Linked DNA regions of Homo sapiens. The protein of the gene in region 2 interacts with the protein of the main gene of each other region in a pairwise test. Each region holds a gene or a part of one and is shown on either strand. Other genes may lie near its edges.

Region 1 (3,819 bases), on a different chromosome or scaffold from region 2:
AGAAGCCAAAGCCCCATCCCTTCCTTTGTACCCTGTAGTTTACAGTGCCAGAGTCTAGGCCACCTATAGCATGCCAGGCAAGGAGCACCTTCTCTGTGTGACAAGCACCGAGAGCAGCCCTCAATTCCAGGCCTGTTGGCATAGTAAGTGATACAGGTTGGACATTAAGAGCACTGGGCTGGAGGTTGAATGCCTCTGCCTCTGCCACTCCCTTGTTATGTGACCTATCTATGTTTTGATTAACTTCTCAAAGCTTAAGTTTTCTTATCTGCAAAATGAGGACAACAAGAACACTAACTCTATGGCTGTGGTAAGAATAAATGTAATAGTTAAGCACAATGCCTGGCTCATAGGAAATCCTCAGTAAACCTTAGCTATTATAATTGTTATCTCCCAAGGCTATCCAGTGAACAAACATAGCACCTAGAGTTTGACGGAGCCTTGAGCTGATGCTGACACTAGCTGAGAGAAGATCCATGGCAGCTCTAGTCGAGGCCCTGCCCACCAGTGCTAAAACAACTTATATGTAATTTGTCAATGACATCCAATGACCTTCCTTCTTCCCCGATTCTTCGTACCATCATCTGGACCACTCTAAGGGGTACTAGCTGCCCCACCTTCCTCCTTTTAGAGGAGGCTGGCTGAGCCTCTGCAACCCCAAGAAGATGGTGTCACATATAGCAGCTAGGACATGAGCTTTGCAGTGGCAGACCTGGGTTCACATCCCAGCTCCACCACTTTCTCACAAGTGAGCTGGGGCCAGGTGATTAACCTTCCAAGCCTTAGGTTTCCTTTTCAGCAAAATAGAAACGATGATAGTACCTATAATATCTGGAGTTAAGGTGAGGATGAAATGAGACAACACATCTGAAGGGCATAGGCACAGAGTAAGTGCTCAATGGCAAATGACCCATCATCTTTAAGGGAGGGAAATCTCAACCATGTGATGCTGAGTTCCCTGTTTGTACCGTAGGTACATCGAGAAGTCTGCAGAGGAGCTGGACGAGGAAGTAGAGTATGACATGGACGAGGAGGACTACATCTGGCTGGATATCATGAATGAGCGTCGGAAGACAGAGGGTGTAAGTCCCATCCCGCAGGAGATCTTTGAGTACCTAATGGACCGACTGGAGAAGGAGTCGTACTTTGAGAGTCATAATAAAGGCGACCCTAATGCGCTAGTGGACGAGGATGCTGTTTGCTGTATCTGCAATGATGGTGAGTGCCAGAACAGCAATGTCATCCTCTTCTGTGACATGTGCAACCTGGCCGTGCACCAGGAGTGCTACGGTGTCCCCTATATCCCTGAGGGCCAGTGGCTGTGCCGCCGTTGCCTGCAGTCACCCTCTCGTGCTGTGGATTGTGCCCTGTGCCCCAACAAGGGCGGTGCCTTCAAGCAGACAGATGACGGGCGCTGGGCCCATGTGGTGTGTGCCTTGTGGATCCCTGAGGTCTGCTTCGCCAACACGGTCTTCCTAGAGCCTATTGACAGCATTGAGCACATCCCACCAGCTCGCTGGAAGCTCACCTGCTACATTTGCAAACAACGGGGCTCAGGGGCCTGCATCCAGTGCCACAAGGCCAACTGTTACACAGCTTTCCATGTGACATGCGCCCAGCAGGCTGGCCTTTACATGAAGATGGAGCCTGTGCGGGAGACAGGCGCCAACGGCACCTCTTTCAGTGTCCGCAAGACAGCCTACTGCGACATCCACACGCCTCCAGGTTCAGCACGCCGACTGCCTGCCCTGTCCCACAGCGAGGGTGAGGAGGATGAAGATGAGGAGGAGGATGAGGGTAAGGGCTGGAGCTCAGAGAAAGTCAAGAAGGCCAAGGCCAAGTCCCGGATCAAAATGAAGAAGGCACGGAAGATCCTGGCAGAGAAGCGGGCAGCAGCACCTGTGGTGTCAGTGCCCTGCATCCCACCACACAGGTATGTGGGGAGCCGGTGGACAGGCAGATGAGGGAGAAAGGAGCCTCCAGGAGAGGAGCTGGCAGCCTCCTGAGTGGAATGGCAGGGCTGGGCTATCTTCCCAGGAGCTGCATAGAAGTTAAAAAGAACATATTTTCAAAACAGATAGTTGTCTTTAGCAGGTCACCTGACTTTCACATTAAGAGCCAGAAATGTCAGCTTTTATCTGGCATAGCTAACAGGCGTTTTGGAACTGCCCTTCATTTTGATGGTGTGGTTTGTTAAGTTGGGATGGAAGAGGATGGAACTGCCACTGGCAGCAATGGAAAAAATGGTCTGAATATGAAGAAACAAATAGAATGAAAAGCGGGGAAGGGGAAGCTCAAGAAGTTGTGAAGTGGTTACTGCTGCTCATTTGGGCTGTGATGGCCAGGGATTTTTTTAGTTCTCTTGTGCCGTTTATTTGATTTACTATATATTTCTGCTGTACAGTTGTACTTCATTTTAAAACCTTCAAAGGCTCAGTCTCAGTGGGGCTCCCAGGGTCAAATAGTACTCTGGGCTGCAGTGACTAGAGCAGTCTTAGGGGCAGAAGTCCCTGATTGCTGGTGTACAGGGTTAGGGATCTGGTTTAGTGCTGGGAGCTTGGTTTCCTGTCTGCCACGGTACCACTGATGGCACCACTCTTTCTTCCTTGCCTTAAGTCCAGAGTCCCAGGCCTTTTGGACAAGAGATCCTCTCCCTTCATCCCCATTCAGGAACTTTCACTGGCCAGAGACCCTTGCTCTGCTTAAGAGAATCAGGGCCCAACAAGTTTTACTCTTTGTTTCCTGCCTCCCAGGCTTAGTAAAATCACCAACCGCCTGACCATCCAAAGGAAGAGCCAGTTCATGCAGAGGCTGCACAGCTACTGGACACTGAAGCGGCAGTCACGGAATGGGGTCCCATTGCTACGTCGCCTGCAGACACACCTGCAATCTCAGAGGAACTGTGACCAAGTTGGGGTACTGTGTCCAGTTCCCTGTGGGCTCTGGGAACTAGCGCCAGGGGGACGAAAACCAAAATTTGCAACTGTAGTTTCCAGTGTCAGAGGGCTTAGACTCTTTCCTCCTTTAAGCTAGCCCTCAAACCAGGATCAGCATGGAATGTTCAATGAAAAGATGTTGTTCCTATGTGTTTATGTATTCATTCAACAAACACATACCAAGCATTTATTCTGCCAGGCCTTGGGGACACACAGATTGAGGCACTACCAATAAATTACTGTGCTCCCTCTTTTGGCTTGACCTGAGTTTCCTGGGCTCTCTTCTCCCTGTTGACCTTTCCTCTGGCTTTCTAATCATCCTCTGATCTTCGTTTTGCCTCTACAGAGAGATTCTGAGGATAAGAACTGGGCCCTTAAAGAACAGCTCAAGTCCTGGCAGCGGCTCCGGCATGACTTGGAGCGAGCTCGGCTGCTCGTGGAATTGATCCGCAAGCGGGAAAAACTCAAAAGGGAGACGGTGAGTGCTCCTGGGCCAGCCCTATTTTATAAAAGAAAAAACAAAAAATTAGCCAGGCATGGTGGCAGGCGCCTGTAGTCCCAGCTACTCGGGAGGCTGAGGCAGGAGAATGGCGTGAACCTGGGAGGAGGGGTTTGCAGTGAGCCAAGATCGTGCCACTGTACTCCAGCCTGGGCGACAGAGCGAGACTCCGTCTCAAAAAAAAAAAAAAAAAAAAGACCCAGGAGAAGGAATAGCGTGTGTACCCCAGCCAGATAGCAGCAGGGCTGACGCTGGAGTCAGGTCTCCTGGTGCTCGGTGTGCTTTTAGTTCTGCTGGAAGCAGAATGTCACAGGAGCGTATGAACAGAATCCTCAGTTATGTGACATAGGTAGCTGGTGCTGGTAGTTCAAGAAAGGGGGAAGC
Region 2 (2,767 bases):
CTACTTCGGCGTCACTAATGTGTTCGGCATTAATATAATATGCTATCAACGCACAAGACAATATAGTAGCAAGTTTCAAGATGGGGTCTCTATTACATGCCAATTTGATATGACCGTGTCATTCTGTACTGGATTATTTTTTTTTCCTCAAGTCAGGTTCTCGCTGTCACCCAGGCTGGCGTGCAGTGGCGTGGTCTCGGCTCACTACAGCCTCAGCCTCCCCGGCTCAAGGGATCGTCCCACTTCAGCCTCTGTGAAGTGCTAGGACTAAAGGCGTGCACCACCCCGGTCGGCTAATTTTTGTATCCGCTATGATGCCCAGGCAGATCTCGAATTCATGAGCTCCAGCGATCTTCCCGCCTCAGCTTCCAAAAGTGCTGGGATTACAGGCGTGAGCCACTGAGCCTGGCTCTGGATTTTTTTTTATTGGTTCTAGTTCATATAACACGAGATGAATAAACACAGCGAACATTCTTGTAAGCCCTACATTAAATAACTAGTTCACATTCTGACTTAAACATGTCACCTGAATCCTGTAAGGTTTTTCCTAAAAGTCATTCCTAAGCTCTAGATGAAAAATGCTTTATCTTTTCATAACAAACGTTCCAAATGTTTAACCAGTGGCCCAGCTCTCCCGCAGAAATAGTAGGTGGCTCTGAAAAGAGCCGTTGTATTGGAAAGTGATTCTATGGAGACATTATTTGCCTTTGGCCTTGTGGTGACTCTCGGTCTTCTTGGGCAGTAGCACAGCCTGGATGTTGGGCAGGACACCACCCTGAGCGATGGTTACTTTGCCCAGCAGCTTGTTGAGCTCCTCGTCGTTGCGGATGGCCAGCTGCAAGTGGCGCGGGATAATGCGGGTCTTCTTGTTGTCGCGGGCGGCGTTGCCCGCCAGCTCCAGGATCTCGGCAGTCAGGTACTCCAGCACCGCCGCCAGGTACACCGGCGCGCCGGCCCCGACCCGCTCAGCATAGTTGCCCTTGCGGAGCAGTCGGTGCACTCGGCCCACGGGGAACTGGAGACCGGCACGAGAAGAGCGGGTCTTGGCTTTGGCGCGAGCTTTGCCTCCCTGCTTGCCGCGTCCCGACATGACGAAGAAACGATAAATGGAGGAACTGAGAACAGCCGAGAGAAGTTCACCAGAGCTCCACTACTTATAGTCAATACTGGGCGCGAAAATAAAGCTGTGCCATTGGCTCAAATTACAGTTTTATTTCAACCAATGGAATCGCTGTTATGAAACATGCTTCTTTGGATTGGACAAACGTGTATATGACGTCATCTAGAATCGCCACCAGTCCTACACACTATTTTATTAATCACCTCATTTGCATAAGAATTCGTGAACAGGACGTTACAACACACAGCTTTTTCTTCTTCTTCTTTTTTTGTTTTTTTAAGACAGGGTCTCCCTCTCGCCCGGGCTGGAGTGCGGTGGTACGATCTCCGGTCGCTGCAACGTCCGCTCCTGGGTTCAAGTGATTCTCCTGCCTCGGCCTCCTGAGTAGCTGAGATTACAAGCGTCAGCCACCATAGCCCGGCTAATTTTTGTATTTTTTAGTAGAGACAGGGTTTCACCATATTGGTCATCCTGGTCTCAAACCCCTGAGCTCAGGTGAGCCACCTGCCTCAACCTCCCAAAATGCTGGGATTAAAGGCGTGAGCCACAGCGCCCGGCGACTTTTTTTTTTTTTTTTTTTTTTTTTTTCCCTTGAGACAGGGTCTGGCTTTGCCGCCCAGGTTGGAGAGCAGTGGCGCGATCGTGGCTCACCGCAACCTCCGCCTTCCTGGCCGAAGCGATCCTCCTCCCTGAGCCTCCCCAGTAGCTGGGGTTACAGGAGTGCATCACGCGCCCAGCTAATTTTTTACATTTGTTTGAAGAGTCATGGTTTCGCCATGTTGTTCAGGCTGCTCTCGAACTCCTGACCTCAAGTGATCCGCCCGCCTCCGCCTCCCAAAGTACTGGAATTACAGGCGTGCGCCGCCGCGCCCGGCCGCTTTTTCCTATTCCTTGTACCCTTTCTGCAGTTAAACTACAACACGCCTGACCCCACCAAGTCGGCCACAGCCCCGAAAAAGGGTTCCAAGAAGACTATTACTAAGGCAAGAAGCGAAAGCGCAGCCGCAAGGAGAGCTGCTCCGTGTACTTGTACAAGGTGCTGAAGCAGGTCCACCAACACCGGCATCTCGTCCAAAGCAATGGGGATCTTGAACACCTTCGTTATGCCATCTTCGAGCGTATTGCGGGCGAGGCTTCCCGCCTGGCGCGTTACAACAAGCGTTCGACCATCACCTCCAGGGAGATCCAGACGGCTGTTCGCCTGTCACGCATGCTGTGTCCGAGAGCACCAAAGCCGTAACCAAGCACACCAGCTCCAAGTGAGCTCCTTGCTGGTTCGTCCACTTGGAACCCCACTAGGTTCTTCCTGACTCACACTCCACTAGGTTCTTCCTGACCCACACCCTAAGGACTCTTTTCAGAGATATTCACACTTCCTAAATAGAACTGACGCTCGTTTATCCCTAGTTTTGAAATGTTCAGTTAGCTTTAACCTAAAGCCTTTCATAAATGCTTCTTAATTTATGCAAAAGATACATTGTGGCCTTATGATATTTCCAATATTATCTGCTACTAAGTATTTTATGTTACAAACGTCAAATACACAAAACGGGAGTTTTATTGTGCGAATTTCACTTATCCAGGCTCAATTTCAACACCGAGAATCCCCTGTTGAGTTATTGTCTAGAAAACCAAGTATTTAAAGTA

The links.
Region 1: the proteins of H2AC16 (region 2) and BRPF1 interact in binary tests that used the Homo sapiens proteins (3 or more experiments, as listed by UniProt).

What each region holds. Positions count from the first base shown.
Region 1 is NC_000003.12:9,738,026-9,741,844, forward strand, and holds part of BRPF1 (peregrin), read left to right. Parts: intron 1-973; coding exon 974-1,933; intron 1,934-2,753; coding exon 2,754-2,916; intron 2,917-3,282; coding exon 3,283-3,414; intron 3,415-3,819. UniProt on the Homo sapiens protein: Scaffold subunit of various histone acetyltransferase (HAT) complexes, such as the MOZ/MORF and HBO1 complexes, which have a histone H3 acetyltransferase activity.
Region 2 is NC_000006.12:27,863,678-27,866,444, reverse strand, and holds H2AC16 (histone H2A type 1), read right to left. Parts: upstream 1,129-2,767; 5' UTR 1,091-1,128; coding exon 698-1,090; 3' UTR 647-697; downstream 1-646. UniProt on the Homo sapiens protein: Core component of nucleosome. Nucleosomes wrap and compact DNA into chromatin, limiting DNA accessibility to the cellular machineries which require DNA as a template.